5 linked regions of the Homo sapiens genome follow. The protein of the gene in region 4 purifies or fractionates together with the protein of the main gene of each other region. This does not show direct contact. Each region holds a gene or a part of one and is shown on either strand. Other genes may lie near its edges. The genes, in order: TLCD2, CSGALNACT2, SNX13, TSPAN1 and MTCH2.

Region 1 (4,951 bases), on a different chromosome or scaffold from region 4:
GCAATAGGGGATTGCTTAAGTAAATTATTGTATCTCCATCCAGATGGTGGAGTACCGCGCAGACATTAAAAGTCATGTAAAAGAACATCTGACTGAAAGAAAAATGCTCCTTGAATATTAAAAGGTTGTAAAAATAGTGCATGTTATGTGATTTCAATTTTGTTTTTTAAAATATGGGTGTATGCTTGTATACGTAGAGCAGATAAAAAAGACGGAAGGCATACTAAAAAATGTTGAGTGGTTATCTTTGTATGGTGGAACAAAGTCACTGTAATTTTCATCTTTGGTTTTTCTGTAATTTCCAAATTTTCCACATTTTGTATTTCATATAATATAATTTAAGAGATCAGTGTTATTATTTAAACCTTTGGAGAGGTGGGGGTAGAAGAATGAAGGGAAGACCTCAGCTTTTTGGTGAGAAGGTTTGGTTGGGGCACCTCTTGGTTTATGAACTTAATTCTTTGAAGTAGCTGGAATCCTCCCTCTCAGCCTGCAGGAAACAGCTCTGACTTGCTGACTGTCTGCCAGCTGAAGAGGTGGAGTGGAGTAAGGTGGAAGGAAAGCAGTGCAACCTGGGGCTCTTCAGGTGGTGAGGGGCTGGGGGAGGCTCTTCCTCTTAAGGCTGGAGGGTTCTGGAATCCTAACCGCCCTGCTACTAAGAGCAGGACAGGTCTGTTTTTCTCTTCTGACTCTGTCCCAGCCTTGAAGGGACCCTGTGTTACCTTTCCTTGCCCTCGGATTGAAGATATTCTACCCACCCAACGGGTACCAAGCCCTTGGGGAAGGAAGTGCTTTTCAAGACTGGGGGCCAGCGATTCCCTTTTGCGTCCTCTTCCTAATGAGGCTCCTCCGTAGGGCCGAAAACAATGCTGGGGGTCGGGGCGGGGCCCAGTGGGTCGCTTCTCCAACATGGGGTCTCCTGGGGGTTGTGGGGGAGGGGGAGCAGAACTGCTGGAATTACAGGTTTGCCGGGATATGGTAAAGGCGTGGAAACCTCAGGAGGCCGAAGGGGTGGCTCCAAGAAAGTGGGGCACCCCGTCCCCACCACGGACGCGGGGAGGGAAGTGGGGGCGGCGGCCAGGCTCGGGCAGGTACGAGTGGGCTGCGCTAGCCTCTGCCTTGCAGGGTGTGGCGGTGGGTGGTGATGACGCTCAGCAGGTGAAAGTCGCGGGAGCCGGGAAGAGGTCAAGGTTCGTGGGTGGGGCCCGGGAGTGTCAGTTGAGGTTAGACTGGAGACCCAGGTCTGCAACTCCAGCGCTTCAGGACGCTTGGAGCTGGGGAGGACCCCTATTGGCGAACATCCCGGAGGCCCCCCGAGCTCCAGGGCATGGTCTACTGCCCGGAGCCCCCGAACCGCTCCCCCGGCTGGAGCAAGACGCAATCGGTGGCCAAGGCTCCGGGGGCGGCGGCCCCGCGGCTGCTCCAATCACCGCCCAGGCGAGGGACTGGGCGTGGACGAACGGGGAAAAGTTCCTGCTGATCCCAAAGGCGCGGCGGGGAGGGGAGCCGGGGCCCCAGCCCTGCCGGGAAACGGGTTCCCAGTCCCGGCCGAGAGCGCGGGCGCCGAGGGGACCGACCCGGACTCCCCGCAACCCCCCAACCGCCAGGCCATGGCGCCCACGGGGCTCCTGGTGGCCGGCGCCTCCTTCCTCGCGTTCCGGGGGCTGCACTGGGGGTTGCGGCGGCTGCCCACGCCGGAATCGGCCGCTCGGGACCGCTGGCAGTGGTGGAACCTCTGCGTCTCCCTGGCGCACAGCCTGCTCTCGGGGACCGGGGCGCTGCTCGGGTGCGGGCTTGGGGGCTCGAGGCGCACGGGGCGAGGGCGAGGGGTGGGAGGCTGAGGCCGGGAGACCCGCCGGGCGTCTCCAGAGCTGAGACTGGGGTGGGGGTGCGCACAGGGAGACTGCGGCCGGGGCCTCGAGAGGCTGACCATGCCCCCCCCCATGTCCCCACCCCATGCCCCCAGCCTGTCACTGTACCCTCAGATGGCCGCCGACCCCATCCATGGCCACCCGCGCTGGGCTCTGGTGCTGGTGGCTGTGTCTGTGGGTGAGTCTGCAGGGAAGGCTGGGCCGGTGGTGGGGATGGGGCGGGGGGCAGGTTCTGCTGTCCTTCCAGGTCCATTCCCCGCCCCCATGGGGGTTAAACGTTCCTGAAGGCTTTACCAAGGGAAAACTAAGAACTGGGAGAGGGGCGGGGCGGGGGGGCTGGAAATCCTCTCTAAGCTGCCCGGGCTCTGGAGCAGCCTAACCCCTACCCCCATGCCCACAGGTTACTTCCTGGCAGACGGAGCTGACCTGCTGTGGAACCAGACCTTGGGCAAGACCTGGGATCTTCTCTGTCATCATTTGGTGGTGAGACTCTGAGGGCAGAAGCCAGACAGGAAGGGAGGAGGGGAGCCCTGTCCAGCCCGAGGTTCCCAGTCTCTCCTCATTCTTTTTTTTTTTTTTTTTTTTTTTTTTTGAGACGGAGTCTCACTCTGTCACCCAGGCTGGGGTCCAGTGGTTCGGCCTCTGTTCACTGCAACCTTCGCCTCCTGGGTTCAAGCAATTCTCCTGCCTCAGCCTCCCACGTAGCTGGGATTACAGGCACCCGCCACCACGCCCAAGTAATTTTTTGTATTTTTAGTAAAGACGGGGTTTCTCCATGTTGGCCAGGCTGGTCTCGAACTTCTGACCTCAGGTGATCCGCCCACTTCAGCCTTCCAAAGTGCTGGGATTACAAGCATGAGCCACCGCCCCCGGCCCTCTCTTCATTTTGCTGTCCTATAATTTCCCACAGTCTCTGCCCCCAGCTGGTGCTTGGCTCCCAGTCTTAGGCTGAGTTAGGGGGAGGAGGTGGCTGCTGGCCACAGCTGGGGAGTCCAGATACCCACCAGGCCAGGGCACCTACCATGCCAGGGCACTCACCATACAAGGGCACCCACCATGCCAGGGCACCCACCATGTGAGCCTAAGGAGTTTGGGTGCCCCCACAGGTGTCCAGCTGATCACAGAAATGTGGAATATGGAGCTTTTCTGAGAAGGGGGTGTCCTGGTATAGGGTGTGGGTATGGGGCATGAAAGCCCTAGGCCAGGCACGGTGGCTTATGCCTATAATCCCAGCACACTGGGAGGCCGAGGCGGGTGGATCACGAGGTCAGGAGATCGAGACCATCCTGACTAACAGTGAAACCCCGTCTCTACTAAAAATACAAAAATTACCTGGGTGTGGTGGCGCGCACCGGTAGTCCCAGCTACTCTGGAAGCTGAGGCAGGAGAATTGCTTGAACCCAGGAGGCAGAGGTTGCAGTGAGCCAAGATCACACCACTGCACTCCAGCCTGGTGGCAGAGTGAGAGTCTGTCTCGAAAAAAAAAAAAAAAAAAAAAAAAAGCAAGCAAGCCCAGGAATGGGAGGTTAAGGGGGTATTAGGGGGTGAGACAGCCCCTCCCTGGGCCAAGCCTGGTTCCATCTATGGAAGGGTTGTTTCAAGGCTGCTCAGGGCCCCAGGATAAAGGTAAAAGCATAAAGGTCAGGTGTTTGGGGAGCCCCACAGACTGCGTGGAAGCCTCTTTCTTCAGGCCTGGGTTATTGGGACATGATGGCTGGCAGGTCATGGGGTTCCTCTGACCTGTGACCCTGGCTCCCAGGTGGTGAGCTGCCTCAGCACCGCTGTTCTGTCTGGCCACTACGTGGGCTTCTCCATGGTGTCTCTGCTCCTGGAACTGAACTCTGCCTGCTTGCACCTGCGGAAGCTGCTGTTGCTTTCTCGCCAGGCCCCATCCCTGGCCTTCAGCGTGACCAGCTGGGCCTCCTTGGCCACCTTGGCCCTCTTCCGCCTGGTCCCGCTGGGGTGGATGAGTCTGTGGCTGTTCCGGCAGCACCACCAGGTTCCTCTTGCTCTGGTCACCCTGGGTGGAATTGGGCTGGTCACTGTGGGCATCATGAGCATCATATTGGGGATCCGTATTCTGGTCAATGATGTCCTACAGTCTCGACCCCATCCACCCAGCCCTGGCCATGAGAAAACCAGGGGGACCAGGACACGTCGTGACAATGGACCTGTCACCAGCAACAGTTCGACTCTCAGCCTGAAAGACTAGAGAGAAGCCATGGGCCCCTCGCTGGGGGAGGTGGGGCCAGGACAAGGAGATGAGGGTCTTCCATGCACAGTCCCCCATCAGGGTGAGGGCCAGACTTGCTCATCAGAATCTCAGTTTCTCTTCCAGCTAACTCACATCCCTTCCCCTTCCTCGGATCTAAGAAGAAATGCTGATGTTGGATGGGTGGGAACCTGGGTTTCTGTTCACTGAAATCCGTCATCAGATGAGCATCCTTTCCAGCAAATAAACTCAAGAGGTACAGCTAGAGCTATCAGTAAAGGGTGGCAGGAGGCATGCAGCTGGAAGAAACTGCCAGTGGAGACAGAAGCTCTTTGCTTTAACCCAGGGACAGATGGGGGAAGGTGAAGTCCCACTAGGATCAGAGAGATCTGGTATGGGGCGGGTGGGGACAGAGAGAAAAGAGATCTCACCTATAACCAAATTCTGGCAGTGGGAGGAAGGTAGAGGAGGTGCTATCTGTAGCAGCAGAGATGGACGTGATAGTTGCCAAGAGACAGAACCTGGGCCACAGCAATTGCTGCTGATGTTTCTGGTTCTCAAAGCCACACTCCTGTTTTTCTTTTTCTTTTTCTTTTTTTTTATGAGACGGAATCTTACTCTGTCACCCAGGCTGGAGTGTAGTGGCACGATTTCGGCTCACTGCAACCTCAGCCTCCTGGGTTCAAGTGATTGTCCTGCCTTAGCCTCCCGAGTAGCTGTGACTTCAGGCATGCACCACCAAGCCCAGCTAATTTTTGTATTTTTTGGTGGAGAGGAGGTTTCACCATGTTGCCCAGGCTGGTCTCGAACTCCTGACCTCAAGTAATCCACCTGCCTCGGCCTCCCAGAGTGCTGGGATTACAGACGT
Region 2 (4,417 bases), on a different chromosome or scaffold from region 4:
TCAGATTGCTTTATTCTGGATATCATGGTAACAATACAGAAAGTATACATAATTTCCCATTTCTGCAAGTAGTCATGACTGCTGAAGAAAGAAAAACTTAAAGCTACGGCAGAATTATTTTATGGAAATTCTGATTTTGTTTTTAATTTTTGATAACTTTTTACTAAAGGTATGAACACACAAAGAGCTTATTTTGTTAGGCAAATACACATTAATAAGAATGCCTAGAAGAGGACTGATTCTTCACACCCGGACCCACTGGTTGCTGTTGGGCCTTGCTTTGCTCTGCAGTTTGGTATTATTTATGTACCTCCTGGAATGTGCCCCCCAGACTGATGGAAATGCATCTCTTCCTGGTGTTGTTGGGGAAAATTATGGTAAAGAGTATTATCAAGCCCTCCTACAGGAACAAGAAGAACATTATCAGACCAGGGCAACCAGTCTGAAACGCCAAATTGCCCAACTAAAACAAGAATTACAAGAAATGAGTGAGAAGATGCGGTCACTGCAAGAAAGAAGGAATGTAGGGGCTAATGGCATAGGCTATCAGAGCAACAAAGAGCAAGCACCTAGTGATCTTTTAGAGTTTCTTCATTCCCAAATTGACAAAGCTGAAGTTAGCATAGGGGCCAAACTACCCAGTGAGTATGGGGTCATTCCCTTTGAAAGTTTTACCTTAATGAAAGTATTTCAATTGGAAATGGGTCTCACTCGCCATCCTGAAGAAAAGCCAGTTAGAAAAGACAAACGAGATGAATTGGTGGAAGTTATTGAAGCGGGCTTGGAGGTCATTAATAATCCTGATGAAGATGATGAACAAGAAGATGAGGAGGGTCCCCTTGGAGAGAAACTGATATTTAATGAAAATGACTTCGTAGAAGGTAATGTGAAAAATATGTTGGTCAATATTATGTTAGTAAGACAAATGCTAGTATTGTATGCTGGTATTGTATTGTAGTATTGTACTGTAGACAAATGCTAGTATTGTATTGTAGACAAATGTTAGTAATATAAGTCAGTCATTATCCACAGTATTAAAACACTGAAAGTTTTTGCACTTCATTGCACCAAGAATTTTAAGTGGCCTTCTGGAAAAAGGTATGAGATCATAATAAAAATGGAGAATAAGGACTAGGGAAATAGAATAAAACAGCTCTTGTTGCATGTGTATGATTTATATTCCTCACTTACCTGATCTTGGTGTTCTTTTTTATGTTTTTAAAAAATGTGTAAACTAAAACTCAAAACTTGAAAACCATTTGATAAAGGAAAGAAAAAATTAGTAGACTCTTAGCTATTTTTCGTATTGGAGGAAGGAGAAGCTCATGTCTGAACAAGGGGTTATACATAGTTTAAAAAGCACATTTGGCATTTGGAAAAGTAAGGAAATACCTGTTTTCCTAATACATATTTCAGAAAGGGTATGGAATTTTTATGTATCAAGATGGGATGTGACTCAGAGGTTGAAGAACACTGCTATAAAATTTAAGATATTGATTGATATTAACAGTAATAATTCTAGATCCCTACCCATCTCCTTTACACTCACTGCTAGACATTTAATTGCTGACTTAAACCATTTTAAAAATAAATGTTTCTTGAAAGTTCTCTTTGCTTGATTCTATAAACTGTGTTATCACAGTGGTCCCCAGCCTTTTTGGCACCAGGGACTGGTTTCATGGGTGACAATTTTTCCATGGGATGGTGAGGATGGTTTTGGGATGAAACTGTTCCACCTCAGATCATCTGGCATTAGTTAGATTCTCATAAAGAGCGTGCAGTGTAGATTCCTTGCATGTGCAGTTCACAACAGAGTTTGCTCTACTTTGAGAATCCAGTGCAGCCACTGATCCGACAGGAGGCGGAGCTCAGGCGGTAATGCTTGCCAGGCTCCCATCACTCACCTCTTGCTGTGCCGCCTAGTTCCCAACAAACAGGCCACGGACCAGTAGCGGTCTGTGGCCTGGGGGTTAGGGACCCCTCGTATAGCACATGTAGACTTTTTGACTCCAAATCATCATGGCCATCACTTGCTGCACTGTAGCATTATTATAATACACTGAGGCCCTTGGAGGCCATCAGGGAGGGCATTATGCTTTGCAGTGGCATTGCAGCTGCCTTTCCTTGTGGCCTCCTCTTTTTTCTGCTGTCACTTCCTGCCATTTTTGATGGATTATTTTTCTCAAAACTCTTCTGATTTTTCTGCAAGCTCAGCTTTTTGTCTTCTCACTGTATGTTTGTAGCTTATGGCAGAATTGGAAGCTGCGGAGGAAATAAGATAACTAAGTAACATGTGTAAAATGTCCTCACATCAGCTCTACCTAAAAAGAAAGGGAGCTGTGCCAGTTTTATATTCTGCAGCTCCTGCTTTTGTCTTATAACTCTCCTTGGATTCTGATACTTCAGGATTTTTCTCTAAATGGAACATATTCTGTTCCTCACTTTTCCTCTACTGTGCCACTGTCTGCCCACTGCAGGGAGAATAATTACTAATAATTAGTAATGACAACTAATTCCTATCCCTCTTCTAAACTTTAGCTCAGATATCACTTCTTCTGAGAAGTCATCTGCAACCTCAGGTCTAAGACAGCAGTACTTCTGTGTGCTCTTGTCACCTGTACATTCATACTGCTTGTCACAGTATGTGGCATTGCCCATTTCCTGGTTTGTGCTTCCTACTAAAGTGTAAGCCTCAGGAGGGTTGGGACCAAGTCTATTTTATTCACCATTTTATACCCAGATATTTACTGAGTGACTCACACATCTGTAGGTCTAACCTTCTTCTCTCTCCTGAGCGCCATACTTAAAAATCAGATTGCCACTGGGCGCAGTGGCTCACTCCTGTAATCCCAGCACTTTGGGAGGCCGAGGTGGGCAGATTATGAGGTCAAGAGATCAAGACCATCCTGGCCAACATAGTGAAACCCCGTCTCTACTAAAAATACAAAAATTAGCTGGGCGTGGTGACACACGCCTGTAGTCCCAGCTACTTGGGAGGCTGAGGCAGAAGAATTGCTTGAACCCGGGAGATGGAGGTTGCAGTGAGCCAAGATTGCACCACTGCACTCCAGCCTGGTGACAGAGTGAGACTCCGTCTAAAAAAAAAAAAAAAAAAAAAAATCAGATTGCCTCGTAGATGCGCATGCTTTTCTCTCAAAGGCATCTCAAATCACTGTGTTTAAATCTGTACCAATTTTTCTTTGACTTCACTCTAGTCAGTGATTTTATATGTATGTATGTATACACACATATATATATACAGATATATATATATATCACATAGCACTATATTGTTATTATTTGTCTATTTTTCTGTCTCCTTCACTAGACTGGCCCTGTCCTCAAAATTGAGACCATGTGGCACTCTTTGTATCACATAACTGACACGAAGGCACTCGATTTCTTTTAGTTGACCTAAACCAATAGAAATTTTGGCTCTTGGGTCTAGATTTTAATATTGCTAGAAGTAATTTCTTTATTTATCATGATTACCATATTGATAGGCTCTAGTATTTTTAAAAAGTCGTATGTAAAAAGGAACAATTGTCATTTGTAGTATATTTTATAGATTGAATAAAATAACAGAACAGTGAACTTTTTTTTTAACCTTTTCTTTTAAGCGAGTAATTGTTACTGTGCAGTGGGGATAAGTATTTTCACAAATAGGTAAAAATCCTGCAGGTCTAGTTTAATACCCTTTATGTTTAAGTGAGTAAAATCTGTCTTCCCATTGAATTTGTAAACTTTGACATGGAGACGTCTTTGTTCCTAACTCTTTCCTTTAGGTTATTATCGCACTGAGAGAGATAAGGGCACACAGTATGAACTCTTTTTTAAGAAAGCAGACCTTACGGAATATAGACATGTGACCCTCTTCCGCCCTTTTGGACCTCTCATGAAAGTGAAGAGTGAGATGATTGACATCACTAGATCAATTATTAATATCATTGTGCCACTTGCTGAAAGAACTGAAGCATTTGTACAATTTATGCAGAACTTCAGGTAACTGTCAGGGCTTAATGATTAAGCTACATTCTCCTAAAAAAAATCACGTTTTACTCAGATTTCCTTAATTTATCTTCACCGATTATAATTACTTAGAATAATTTTACAGGCTTTAGGGGAACTTTATTTTTTTATATTCTCTCTTTTTTTAAAGCATGTGTAGTATATTGTGTTATAGACAATTTGAACTATGAAATAAATTAAGAGTGACACCTATTAGAAACTAAATTTGATGGCCTTGATAATTGTTTTGAATTCATTTTAAGACAAGTTGAATTTTTAAAAAATCAACTTTACTAAGGAATAATTTACATGCAGTAAAATCCACATATTTTAAGGATATAGGTATCATGACTCTTTTTTTATTTTTATTTTTTTTTTTGAGACAGGGTCTCACTCTATCACCCAGGCT
Region 3 (4,417 bases), on a different chromosome or scaffold from region 4:
TCTAAAATTATCCACCACAATGACTTTACAGCTTTCCCTGAATGAGGTTCTCAGATTATGGCTTTTTAAACTGTGCTTTGAAATTTTGTGGTTTCATAGACCATGAAGTGCCTCCTCAATTGATTGTAATCTGGAATTGACTTTCTATTTCAGAGTCAGGTTTAATTTTGGTGTCACAAAGCCTTAAATATGTGTAAGGAGAGGAAACGTTGAAGCAAGCAGATAGCTCTTAAACTGTTTAACGTTTTAAAAGTATTTGGAATTAAATGAATAAATAGGCTGGAGTGATAGTGATAAATACTGTGTCTATCAACAAATTATACATATGGCAACACACAAACCTGTATGTTAAGCACTATAAGGGATGAGTCTCAACTTTATCACTTATTTATGATGGGATTTTGGGGAACTAGTTTGAACTTTCTAAGCTTTTAATTTCCTTCTGTGTAAAATTGGGGTAATAGCACCTTTCTTGCTGTTCTTACATTGTTATGAAGATCATATAAGATGATGGAGGGTATAACTTTGTAAATTGCCAGTCATTATAGAAATAGTGGTAGTACATCGGGTTTTTTTTTTTTTCTGTATATTCCTTGTACTAATGAATGTAAATCCTAGGCTCCATGTAGTTTTATTGCTCACTATTTTCTTGGTGGATAGGTGGGTGGGTCCTGAGGGGAAATTAGGAGGGGAGTCTCCTGGCTAGTGGTGCAGTTACAGGGGAGACAGGGAATAGACTAAAAGAAGTGAAAGAGAAAAAAGGGGATAGTTTCTTGTGTGGTTGGTAAACCGATTTCAATGAATGCCTTAAAGCAAGTTCTCTCTTTTTTTTTTTTTTCTGAGACAGAGTCTCGCTCTGTTGCCCAGGCTGGAGTGCAGTGGCGCGATCTCAGCTCACTGCAAGCTCTGTCTCACGGGTTCAAGCGATTCTTTTGCCTCAGCCTCCTGACTAGCTGGGACTACAGGCGCGTGCCAGCACGCCTGGCTAATTTTTTGTGTTTTTAGTAGAGACGGGGTTTCACCAGGTTAGCCACGATGGTCTCCATCTCCTGACGTCATGTTCCGCCCGCCTCGGCCTCCCAAAGTGCTGGGATTACAGGCATGAGCCACTGGGCCCGGCCGCCTTAAAGCAAAGTTCTAAAAAATGTTTTGAAAAAGATGATTTATTTGAGGGTTACCAGTCATTTGTCTGTACATATTCCCAAACATTTGTGGGAAGAAAAATCTTTTATTTTTAATCAGACTTGGTAAATCCTTGAAAAGCTGTTATTAAGGATAATGTTTATAAGGCTTTTGTTATAACTCGTGCTGGAGATTGATTTTTATGGATTGATTTCTTCACCAAACAAGAGTATGCCTACTTTGTACTAGGCACATGCTGATAAGTTCTAGTGTTGAAGTGGTGAGTCAGTTGGGAAACCTGTCCTCAGAAATCACTATCAGCGCTAAATTTAGCATTGTACCACTTAGGCCATCAAAGTGGGAGCCTTGAGGTCTTTTGTCAGAATAAAATGATACCACTAAAGGGTGAAAAGTTAAGAGGGGAAAAGATTGGAGAATATAATTAAAAGATAACTGTGACTTGGGTTAGCTTTACAACTCCTGGTAAATCTACTAGTTTGGATGAGACAGCAGCTCTGAAATGGATTTCTTGCAATTGAAGAGTCAACCTGGTGAAAGTAGTACTTGATCCTGCTGTTCCCACCTCCATGTGTTATGTATATATTTATTTGCTTGTTACATGTTTTTCCCTAATAGAGTAAACTCCTGAGGATGGGCCTCATAGGTGTACTCCCAGAGCCTAGAATAGAGCTTGATACTTAGTAGGCCTCACTAAATATCTGTTGAATGAATGAATGTTGAATATTTCCTCAAGAAAAATTAAGATTAAAGTGAAAAATTACGGAGATGAAATTGTCAGTGATAAATTTAAACCATCATATTAATTACCCTTAAAGGATTGGTTACTATCTGTTCATTAGACATTTTATATAGTAAGTACATTGTGGTTAAATATTGTGTTTAAGAGCAATGGGACAAAAAAAAGTTGAACCTGAGGCTTTTAGTTAGGAATGAAATTCTGTCTTAATTTTTCCTACAGGGAAAAATCTGATTAGGTTGTTACTTTGATATAACCAATTATAAATGCAAGAGGGACTTGGATTTTGTTTTGTATCTCTTACTACTTGATATTATGATTTCATTAATATTACTTAAAGTTTAATTCCTAAACTAGATACATTTAAAGAAAGCTTTGTCTGTAATAGTACAATAATGCTGATTTTCATGGCACTTTGTTGACTGTTTCAATTTGTATGACCTTTGATGCTATCTTGAAAGTTTGTAAGTATCAGTAAAAATTTGGCCGTGGTTTCAAAGTTGGAAATTTTGGGGGTCCATTTTTAAGGAGGGCAGCTGCTACCACAGTCTCTTAACTAAAATGCGTCTCTGTTCAATGTTGGAGACAGAGTACTGTTATGTCGTTTGCCCATCTGTAATTCCACTGTATATTCAGAAATAATATATACCAGAAAAGTTCAATAAGATGATTCTGCTCTGTTCCACTGTTCAAGTAGAATAATGGTCTGTAAATATACTTATGAGAGGATCATGTATATTAACTGGAATAATTCACCATTGTTTACTTATTGCACTGTTTTCTCTGATTTCCTAAGGGATCTTTTTATTCTGATGCATCTGTGAAGACCCTAAGGTGAATCCAGCTTTGCTCTTGACCTTAGCTGTGCATTGTTGGAGAATCCTTGGTTCTTATTCCATTTAAACCTGAATTGGTATTATACCTGAAATTTGGGGGCTATTTTTAGCCTGACTGGCTTAGCATAGGAAAGAGTTGTGATTCTTTGTTTTGTGATTTCTTTTATTTTCGAGCTAGAGTTGTGGAGAATGGCCTTTGGATTCATTGTCCTGTGAAGTTTGGAAATTATAAAACTGAAGTTGTACAATTTTAGTGGAAGAGTTAAATGTGAAATAAAATTTCACCGTATTTCTGTTATTACATAAATATTAGGAAATAATGTTCTGACTTTAAGATGTGATATTGTGTTATCCAGTGTTTCTCCAAGCTGTAATATTGTATTTTGCAATTTGTTCTCTTCCAGAGTTTGAGATAGCTTGTTTTCTCAGAATTTTTCTCAGCTGAGAAACACAACTGGTGTTTAATTCAGACTGCAACTATTAATATAATCAGCTATTTTACATGTGGTATTAATTACTAACATCTGATCTTTTTCTTGTATGGTACCCAACTGCTCAACACTTAAAGTATTGCAATAGTGTTAATCCTGGTGGGAGTCAGGAGAGTAAAATAAATGGGCTACAATGACAGTCTCCAGCCTTTTTGGCACCAAGGGACCGGTTTTGTGGAAGACAGTTTTTCCACGGACGGCTGTTGGGGGGAATGGTTTCGGGATGAAACTGTTCCACCTTAGATCATCAGGCATGAGAGTCTCATAAGGAATATGCAACCTAGATCCTTGCATGTGCACTTCACAATAGGGGTAGTGCTCCTATGAGAATCTAATGTCCCAGCTGATCTGACAGGAGGCTGAGCTCAGGTGGAAAAGCCCACTCCCCGCCACTAACCCCTGCTGCTCACCTCCTTCTGTGCGGCCTGATTCCTAATGGGCCATGGACCTGTAATGCTCTGTGGCCCAGGGGTTGAAGGGCAGAACACCACAAAGTTACAGGAAAAGAAACTGAAATAATATACTTTCCAAATAGTGAGTATTGGTTGCATAAAGGTTTAGAAAAACCAAGTAGACTTGAGAGTATTTTATGATGCATTAAAAATGTATTTTATGAATCTGAAATTCCAGAAATTAATAACAGCAGCTCAGAATATTCAATCATATAATAGGCACTAACACAAAATTTATGTGATGATGAAAGATTATCTTTATACTAGGATTCAGTGTTAATCATCTTTTTTATATATGTATATATATCTCCTCTAGTCCCAAACCAAATATTCCTAATTTCTGAATAAAAATGTATACTTTTGGTTAAGAGTGATGGCTGGTGTCAGATTATTTGGATTTGAATCTAAGTTTTCTCGATTCCGAGCATTTTGACCTTGGAAAGGTTGCTAACGTTTCAGAGCCTCAGTTTTCTTATATGTGTGACTTATAAATGAATGGTACTGACCTCATAGGGTTGTTGCAAGTATTAAGTGAAGTAACACATGTACTGTGCAGTGTTTCCTACAGTAACAATAAATCTTTATTCTTATTTCTTTATTCTTATTCTTTATTCTTTATTCTTATTCTTATTCTTTATTCTTTTTCTTATTCTTTATTCTTATTTCCTCTGATGTAAATAGCAAGTGGTTTATTTTCAAAACTTAGAATTTAATATGTTTGAAGTTGTTTTAGTGTTCTTTGATTGAGGTAGTTTTAAA
Region 4 (4,417 bases):
GAGGAACCTGGGGTGTTAGGATCTCAGAGTGTCAGGTGCTGGTGGAGGTCCTGGGTAGTATAGAGGGGTAAGGGTGTTAGGATAGAAACTGGGAAAAGGTCTGTGTCAGACCAGGTACAGGAGAAGCTTGGTGAGATATGGGTTCAGGATCCTGGGGTCTGGCATATCTGGCTGAATATCTGAAGCCAGGGCCAGCCCAGGTGGGCCCAGGGGAAACAAGGCCCTAACTTGCACATGTCTACCTCCCAGGAGCCACCATGCAGTGCTTCAGCTTCATTAAGACCATGATGATCCTCTTCAATTTGCTCATCTTTGTAAGTACGGACATTGTGGACTCTTTGGGGCTCCCTATAGGAGCAGGTCACAAGCTGAGTAGAGACTAAGCTGGGGAATGGGAGACTGCTATGCCCAGGCTTCGTCCTGCATGTGTCCCCTTATGAGTGGGATGCAAAGGTCTCCCCAAATGCTGCTGATTCCTAGTCCCAGCAGCAGCCAGGCTGCCATACAGGTGCGTGTGTGAAAAAGGGGATGGAGAAGCTAGGGGCACCCCCTCTCTCCTACAAAGCTTTAGCCTAGGCTTCAGGCAGGGCAGAGTAAGCTACCAGGAATGATTCTCCACCCTTTATAGGCACTGGGGGCCCAGAAAATAGAAGGGCTCCACCCAAGTTTACCTACCACAGAAGGAAATTCAGTACAGAGGAAATTCTTCTGTATGACGGGGAGCTGAAAGGAGGGAGGGCCTACCTCTCATCAGAGCAACAGTCCTTATTCATTCGACAAACATTCATTGTCTAGGATACCATGATGGGTGCTGGGGTGGCAGGTAAGCAAAGCCTTTCTCTGCCCTGAAGGATCTCAGCTCCGATAAGCCAGATAGGCAGATAATAACAACACAGTGTGTTTGGGCTTAGGACGGAGGTTATGGGAGCCTGAACTCAGCCTGGTTGGAGAATACTTCCTGGAGGAAATAGCTGAAGCTGGGAAATTGCACTTGGTGGGGGAGTTATAAAGCATGCATAAAGGGCCAGAAGTAGTGAAACTTGATATCGTTCAGAAAACCAGAAACAGATTGCATAGGGCATGTTTGAGAAGCTGAGCCATGAGGCGTAAATCCTGGAGATGGTGGTGGAGATAGGGAGAAACGGACAAAGTGGACAAAGGACAAAGCTCTAGGATGATGGCTGAGGGGTAGAAGAAGGGGCAAGGGAGACAGAGGTCTTGGAGATGACGCCCATATCTCTGGCATGAGCAACCCAGATGGCAGGGGGTGGGGCCTGGTTTGTGGGAAGGGGTGTCCCACTAGCAGATGTGTACCCAGTGGAGGTGCAGCTCAGATTGGAGCTGGCCATGGGTATTTGAAAATCATGTGCGCACAGGTAGCCACTGAAGCCATGGGAGTGGATGAGAACACTTGGAAAGTGAACTCTGGGAAACCCAATTTATTAGGGATAAGCAAAAAAAAAAAAAGCCACTGTGAAGGAGATGGAGAAGGAGCAGTGGGAGGGGGAGAGGAAAACAAGGAGAGTAGTACACTAACCACATTAGAGTAGGTTAGTGTAAGTGAAAGTGAGGAAGTGGGCCAGGTGCAGTAGCTCACAACTGTAATCCCAGCACTCTGGGAAGCTGAGGCGGGCAGATTAGTTGAGCTCAGGAGTTCGAGACCAGCCTGGCCAATATGGTGAAACCCCGTCTCTACTAAAAATACAAAAATTAGCTGGATGTGGTGGCGCATGCCTGTAATCCCAGCTACTTGGGAGGCTGAGGAAGGACAATCACTTGAACCCAGGAGGCGGAGGTTGCAGTGAGCCAAGATCACACCACTGCACTCCAGCCTGGGCGACAGAGTTTATGTATGTATTGATTAGTTTAGAAGCGTGGGTAGACTCTCTAGTTCTGATGTGGTCTGTGCCTTGGGCTTCCTTCGGCTGCAGGGAACTTGTGTTTTTGTTGTTGTTGTTGTTGTTGTTTGTTTCTTTGAGACAGGATCTTGCTTTGTCACCAAAGCTGGAGTGCAGTGGCATGATCATGGCTTACTGCAGCGTCAACCTCCTGGGCTCAAGGGATTCCCCTACCTCACTCAGCCTCCTGAGTATCTAGGACTACAGGAGTGTGCCACCATGCTCAGCTAATTAAAAAAAATTTTTTTTGTAGAGGCGGTCTCACTATATTGCCCAGGCTGGTCTCGAACTCCTGGACTTAAGTGATTCTCCCACCTCTGCCTCCCAAAGTGCGGGGATTACAGGCATGAGCCACTGTGCCAGTCCTGAACTAGTCTTTATCCCTGTATCTGGAGGAAGCAATAGGATTCCAGGGATTTGGACAGGAGAGGCTCTGCCCTGAGAGGGTTAAAGGCAAATCCGGTTTGATTTCTGGCCTCTGTTACCCAGACCTTGCCAGGCTGGGCAAAGCAGGATAGGGCAGACCTCCAGCTCCATGAAATTTGACCCTGCAGGCTAGAAGTCCAGCTTTCTGTCCTTGGGCAAACATGCCTGGAATCCAGCCACAATCTGCCACCTCACTTCCCGTTCTAGCCTCAGTTTTTATAGCTGGCAAGTGAGGACTAGTCACCAAGGTGGTGTCAGGCTGATTCATCCACTGAAGCCCTGGGCCGGGAGGCTTTCCTCTAAGATCTGTGGGAACTGCGCAGGGCCCTCCTCAATCTAGGCCTCAGAATTCCCCCTGAGGTTTGGAGTTGAGCTAGACAGCCTTTAAGAGAAGCTCTGGCTGTATTCCCACTGGTACCTCACTTTCCTCTTGTGAGGCAAGGAGGTCTTGTCTACATGAGGGGCGGGCCTGAAGTTGGATTCTGGAGGGGAGCCAAATGGGGCCTCAGGTGGGTGAACCTTCTCAACCTCCTCCCTCTCCAAGGTTGCCAGCAGGTGGAACCTCAGCCTCGCCTCCATTACTATGGTGACTATTGAGCCTGTTCTGCTACCACCCCCGTCTCCACCTATCAGAGGACAGAGGTGTTCTAGGCACCCATAGCCCAGAAAGGAAATAGGAGGCTGGGCCCTCACCTGCCTGTTTTCAATCCTAGCTATGTGGCAGGACCCTGGCAGCAGTGAGGGAAAGTCTTGCCCCTCTGCCCACCCTGAGGATATTTCTAGAACCCCTGATCTCCTTTATATCTGCCCAGGTGTGCAGCCTGGTCCTAGCTATGCATATCCCAGCTCCCATTTTTCTGGCTCTAGAGGATGTTTCCCTCCTTACAGGATGAGGTTTTAGACTCCCTAGCCAATAAAGAGGGAAGTTTCTCGGCTCCCATCCTTCTTACTCAGCTGTGTGGTAGTAAGCTACTTGCCAGCACTGTTTAAGGCCTGCCTGACCTCTCTCTCCCCAGCTGTGTGGTGCAGCCCTGTTGGCAGTGGGCATCTGGGTGTCAATCGATGGGGCATCCTTTCTGAAGATCTTCGGGCCACTGTCGTCCAGTGCCATGCAGTTTGTCAACGTGGGCTACTTCCTCATCGCAGCCGGCGTTGTGGTCTTTGCTCTTGGTTTCCTGGGCTGCTATGGTGCTAAGACTGAGAGCAAGTGTGCCCTCGTGACGGTGTGTGAAACCCAGCTCCACAGGCTGATGACCAAGAGTCCCCTCGCCCTTGACACCAGGCCCTGGGATTCCCAAACCCTGCTTTGGACCCCCCTAGGCTCAGGCTTCTGTCTCACTTTTCCGGGGGGGGGATTAGGGCAAGGAGGGCATGAGGGACTGTCTCTCCCTAAAACCCAGACCCCTGTTCCCCACTCAGTTCTTCTTCATCCTCCTCCTCATCTTCATTGCTGAGGTTGCAGCTGCTGTGGTCGCCTTGGTGTACACCACAATGGTGAGACACTGGGATGGAGGAAGGGAAGAAGATTGGGCAAAACCCTGGGAGTGGGCTGTGGCCTGTGAATGGCCACCTTCTGTACCAGCCCCTAAACACTGGCCTGCCTCACCCAGGCTGAGCACTTCCTGACGTTGCTGGTAGTGCCTGCCATCAAGAAAGATTATGGTTCCCAGGAAGACTTCACTCAAGTGTGGAACACCACCATGAAAGGGGTAAGGTTGGCTGGGGGAGGTTTTAGGGTGGAGAGAAAGAAGCAAGGCCCCACCTCCACCCTCATCTTGTCTCCAGCTCAAGTGCTGTGGCTTCACCAACTATACGGATTTTGAGGACTCACCCTACTTCAAAGAGAACAGTGCCTTTCCCCCATTCTGTTGCAATGACAACGTCACCAACACAGCCAATGAAACCTGCACCAAGCAAAAGGCTCACGACCAAAAAGTAGAGGTGTGGGCTGGCATGAGTGGGTGGGGACTGTTTTCATGGCCTCAGAGTGGCAAACGGGGATGGGAGTAGGGCAGCTGCCAACTATAAATGCTCTTTTCTCTTCCTGAAGGGTTGCTTCAATCAGCTTTTGTATGACATCCGAACTAATGCAG
Region 5 (4,417 bases), on a different chromosome or scaffold from region 4:
AAAAACAGAGTTCTTGAATTTTCTTTTTTGTTGTTGTTCTTATTTTGTAATTATTTCTTTAAATTTATTATTATTTTTTTAGAGACAAAGTCTCACTATGTTGCCCAGTCTGGTCTTGAATTCCTGGGCTCAAGCAGTCCTCCCTCTTCGGCCTTCCAAAGTGTTGGGATTACAGGCGTGAGTCACTGCGCATGTTCCCTTTTCGTTTTTTGGGTTTTTTTGTTGTTTTTTTTTGAGACAGAGTTTCACTCTTGTTGCCCAGGCTGGAGTGCAATGGCATGGTCTCGGCTCACTGCAGCTTCCACCTACCGGGTTCAAGCAATTCTCCTGCCCCAGCTTCCCACGTAGCTGGGATTACAGGCACCTACCACCACGCCCAGCTAATTTTTGTATTTTTAGTAGAGAGGGGGTTTCGCCATGTCAGCCAGGCTGTTCTCAAACTCCTGACGTCAGGTGATCCGCCTGCCTCAGCCACGCAAAGTGCTGGGATTACAGGCGTGAGGCACCATGCCCGGCCCCTTTTCTTTTTTTCTGAGATGGAGTCTTGCTCTGTTGCCCAGGCTGGAGTGCAGTGATGTGATCTCAGCTCACTGCAGTCTTTACCCCCCGGGTTCAAGCAATTCTCCTGTCTCAGCTTCCCAAGTAGCTGGGATTACAGGCGCCCGCCACCAAGCCCAGCTAATTTTTGTACTTTTAGTAGAGATGGAGTTTCACCACGTAGGCCAGGCTGGTCTCAAATTCCTAACCTCAGGTGATCCACCTGCCTTGGCCTCCCAAAGTGCTGAGATTATAGGCGTGAGCTACCGCACCCAGCCTTCCCTTTTCTTTTTTTTTTTCTTGAGACGGACTCTTGCTCTGTCACCTGGGCTGCAGTGCAGTGGCGTGATCTTGGCTCACTGCAACCTCTGCCTCCTGGGTTCAAGTGATTCTCCTGCCCCAGCCTCCCTAAGAGCTGGGATTAAAAGCGTGCGCCCCAATGCTCCGCTAATTTTTGTATTTTTAGTAGAGATGGGGTTTCACCATGTTGGCCAGGCTAGACTTGAACTCCTGACCTCAGGTGATCTGCCCACCTCGGCCTCCTAAAGTGCTGGGATTACAGGCATGAGCAACCACACCTGTCCCCTTTTCTTTTTTCAAAGAAGAGTTTTCATGACCATTTGCTTTTCTTCCAACTGACCAATATGTTAAACTTAGCAACAAGTTTATCTTGGAGATCCATATTTCCAGTTGATTAATGAGTAGAAGTTAACTGAAGATTTGCAGCTTAAAAAAAAAAACAAAAACTTTAAAAAAAACTTCAGCTAATTTACTTTCTGTCAGTAGAGTTTTCATTTTATGTCTTCTTTCACATGACACTGTAATAACCCTAATCATCCTTTTTCTTTTTTTCTATAGCATTACCAGGAGAGTGACAAGGGTGAGGTATGTTGGAGCTGATTTCTAAGCATGAGGGCCTTTCCCTTGCAAGTTGTTACTGCTTTTGGGGCCTCTTTTGGAGAAAAGCCAAGTAGTCAGTCTCCTATTCATCTCAGTGAGTGTTGTCCTATGGGGTGGCCACCAGTTTGGACAGTTCTGTTTGAAACCATCAGGATGGCTGGGCATGGTGGCTCATGCCTGTAATCCTAGCAGTTTCGGAGGCCAAGGTGGGAGGATCACTTGCATCTAAGAGTTTGAGACCAGCCTGGGCAACATAGACCCCTTCTCTACAGAAAATCAAAGATTAGCGGGGCCTGGTGGCACATACCTCTGTATCTCAGCTACATGGGAGGTTGAGGTGAGAGGATCACTTGAGTCCAGGACGTCAAGACTGCAGTGATCCATGATCACATCACTGCACTCCGCGTGAGTGACAGAGCGAGACCCTATCTCAAAAGAAATAAAAACCGTCAAGATCGGCCGCCCATGGTGGCTCATGCCTGTAATCCCAGCACTTTGGGAGGCCGAGGCAGGTGGAGATCACGAGGTCAGGAAATCGAGACCATCCTGGCTAACACGGTGAAACCCCGTCTCTACTAAAAATACAAAAATTAGCAGGGCGTGGTGGCGAGCACCTGTAATCCTAGCTACTTGGGAGGCTGAGGCAGGAGAAGCACTTGTACCCAGGCGGTGGAGCTTGCAGTGAGCCGAGATTGTGCCACTGCACTCCAGCCTGGGCGACAGAGCGAGACTCTGTCTCAAAAAAAAAAAAAAAAAAAAATCAAGATCTCTATTTTCTTTGATTTTGATTTCCAGGAGTTAGGACCTGGAAATGTACAGAAAGAAGTCTCATCTTCCTTTGACCACGTTATCAAGGAGGTAAGAGATGAATTACATCCTGTGCTGTTTGCCCAGATCAAACTGTGGTGTTGCAACTATGGAATCAGAATCATCAGGCCTGTGTGTTCAGTGTCTGTTCCCAAATGAAATTAAACCTTCAAATTAATTTGGGCTTTACTACATGTATAACATTAAAAAGAGAGAGGATCAGTGCTTGCTGTTCAGAATAGATGCATTTCAAGAAAACTCATTTTGCCCACACATTCCGTCTTTAGAATACTGAAAGTCTTCTAATAGTGTTGAAAACCTCAGGAATAAAAGTGTTAAAATAGGCCAGGTGTGGTGGCTCACGCCTGTAATCCCAGCACTTTGGGAGGCCAAGGCAGGAAGATCACTTGACCCCAGGAGTTAGAGACCAGCCTATGCAACATAGTGAGACTTCCTCTCTACAAAAAAAATAGAAAAATTAGCTAGGTGTGTGGTGGCACATATCTGTAGTCCCAGGTACTCGAGAGGCTGCGGTGAGAAGATGACTTAAGCCCAGGAAGTTGAGGCTGCAGTGAGCTATGATTGTGCCACCATACTCCAGCCTGTGTGATAGAGCAAGACCTTGTCTTTAGAAAAAAGTATTAAAATAGCGACCAGGCCCTTTGTATGTTGGATAGTATCTATGCAGAAAGGCTCTTTTGACATTTTTCTGACTCTGAAAAGTTCCTCATCACCCATTTCCCACCCCCATATGCTGCCATAGGTGTTTCTGTGCCTGGCTTTCAGAACTATTCTCTTATTACTTAAGTCTTCACATTGTCTTAATTGTCATTAATGAAGTCACAATTATCCAGGAAATGCAGCCATCCAAAATACATATTCCAAAGGCTGGGCGCAGTGGCTCATGCCTGTAATCCCAGCACTTTGAGAGGCCGAGGCGGGCGGATCACCTGAGGTTGGGAGTTGGAGACCAGCCTGACCAACATGGAGAAACCCCGTCTCTACTAAAAATACAAAAATTAGCCAGGCATGGTGGCGCATGTCTGTAATCCCAGCTACTTGGGGGGCTGAGGCAGGAGAATGGCTTGAACCCGGGAGGCAGAGGTTGTAATGAGCCAAGATTGCACCATTGCACTCTAGCCTGGGCCACAGGAGTGAGACTCCATCTCAAGAAAAAAAAAAAAAAAAAAAAAAAATATATATATATATATATATATTCCAAAACAAACATTACTAAAGGTCTGGAAACCAGATAAATTAGCTCTATTTTCTGTAAATTTTCATGAAATTAGTTTGCTTAAAAGCAGGGATACGGCCGGGCGTGGTGGCTTACACCTGTAATCCCAACACCTTGGGAGGCCGAGGCGGGCAGATCACGAAGTCAGGAGATTGAGACCACCCTGGCTAACACGGTGAAACCCCGTCTCTACGAAAAATACAAAAAAATTAGCTGGGCATGGTGGCAGGCGCCTGTAGTCCCAGCTACTCGGGAGGCTGAGGCAAGAGCATGGCGTGAACCTGGGAGGTGGAGCTTGCAGTGAGCCAAGACTGCGCCACTGCACTCCAGCCTGGGAGACAGCGAGACTCCCTCTCAAAAAAAAAAAAAAAGCAGGGATACATGTATTACTATGCAATTAGTATTTTCCTTAGTTTGCCCATCCAGTCCCATAGGATCTTATGCCCTTGGAGAAGGGGTGAGGGCTGTCTTAAAACTCAGTGACTAGGCCGGGTGTGGTGGCTCACACCTATAATCCCAGCACTTTGGGAGGCTGAGGCGGGCAGATCACGAGGTCAGGCATTCAAAACCAGCTTGGCCAACATGGCGAAATCCCATCTCTACTAAAAATACAAAAAAAATTAACTGGGCATGGTGGTGTGTGCCTGTAATCCCAGCTACTCAGGAGGCTGAGGCGGGAGAATCACTTGAACCTGGGAGGTGGAGGTTGCAGCAAGCTGAGATCGCACCACTGCACTCCAGCCCGGGCAACAGAGCAAGACTCTGTCTCAAAAAAAAAGAAAAGAAAAAACTCAGTGACCATAAAGATACTGTTTAAATGCAAAAGCCGGCCAGGCACGGTGGCTCATGCCTGTAATCCCAGCAGTTTGGGAGGCCGAGGCGGGCGGATCATGAGGTCAGGAGATCGAGACCATCCTGGCTAACACGGTGAAACCG

The links.
Region 1: the proteins of TSPAN1 (region 4) and TLCD2 purify together in Homo sapiens (affinity purification with mass spectrometry; one large-scale study listed by BioGRID and IntAct). This does not show direct contact.
Region 2: the proteins of TSPAN1 (region 4) and CSGALNACT2 purify together in Homo sapiens (affinity purification with mass spectrometry; one large-scale study listed by BioGRID and IntAct). This does not show direct contact.
Region 3: the proteins of TSPAN1 (region 4) and SNX13 purify together in Homo sapiens (affinity purification with mass spectrometry; one large-scale study listed by BioGRID and IntAct). This does not show direct contact.
Region 5: the proteins of TSPAN1 (region 4) and MTCH2 purify together in Homo sapiens (affinity purification with mass spectrometry; one large-scale study listed by BioGRID and IntAct). This does not show direct contact.

What each region holds. Positions count from the first base shown.
Region 1 is NC_000017.11:1,706,902-1,711,852, reverse strand, and holds the start of TLCD2 (TLC domain-containing protein 2), read left to right. Parts: upstream 1-1,475; 5' UTR 1,476-1,610; coding exon 1,611-1,786; intron 1,787-1,966; coding exon 1,967-2,049; intron 2,050-2,271; coding exon 2,272-2,354; intron 2,355-3,630; coding exon 3,631-4,083; 3' UTR 4,084-4,951. UniProt on the Homo sapiens protein: Regulates the composition and fluidity of the plasma membrane. Inhibits the incorporation of membrane-fluidizing phospholipids containing omega-3 long-chain polyunsaturated fatty acids (LCPUFA) and thereby promotes membrane rigidity.
Region 2 is NC_000010.11:43,154,930-43,159,346, forward strand, and holds part of CSGALNACT2 (chondroitin sulfate N-acetylgalactosaminyltransferase 2), read left to right. Parts: 5' UTR 1-220; coding exon 221-881; intron 882-3,785; coding exon 3,786-4,002; intron 4,003-4,394; coding exon of another isoform or gene 4,395-4,417. UniProt on the Homo sapiens protein: Transfers 1,4-N-acetylgalactosamine (GalNAc) from UDP-GalNAc to the non-reducing end of glucuronic acid (GlcUA). Required for addition of the first GalNAc to the core tetrasaccharide linker and for elongation of chondroitin chains.
Region 3 is NC_000007.14:17,929,966-17,934,382, reverse strand, and holds part of SNX13 (sorting nexin-13), read left to right. Parts: intron 1-4,417. UniProt on the Homo sapiens protein: May be involved in several stages of intracellular trafficking. May play a role in endosome homeostasis. Acts as a GAP for Galphas.
Region 4 is NC_000001.11:46,180,851-46,185,267, forward strand, and holds part of TSPAN1 (tetraspanin-1), read left to right. Parts: intron 1-249; 5' UTR 250-257; coding exon 258-314; intron 315-3,340; coding exon 3,341-3,547; intron 3,548-3,743; coding exon 3,744-3,818; intron 3,819-3,934; coding exon 3,935-4,033; intron 4,034-4,109; coding exon 4,110-4,265; intron 4,266-4,374; coding exon 4,375-4,417. UniProt on the Homo sapiens protein: Structural component of specialized membrane microdomains known as tetraspanin-enriched microdomains (TERMs), which act as platforms for receptor clustering and signaling.
Region 5 is NC_000011.10:47,632,550-47,636,966, reverse strand, and holds part of MTCH2 (mitochondrial carrier homolog 2), read left to right. Parts: intron 1-1,395; coding exon 1,396-1,422; intron 1,423-2,232; coding exon 2,233-2,295; intron 2,296-4,417. UniProt on the Homo sapiens protein: Protein insertase that mediates insertion of transmembrane proteins into the mitochondrial outer membrane. Catalyzes insertion of proteins with alpha-helical transmembrane regions, such as signal-anchored, tail-anchored and multi-pass membrane proteins.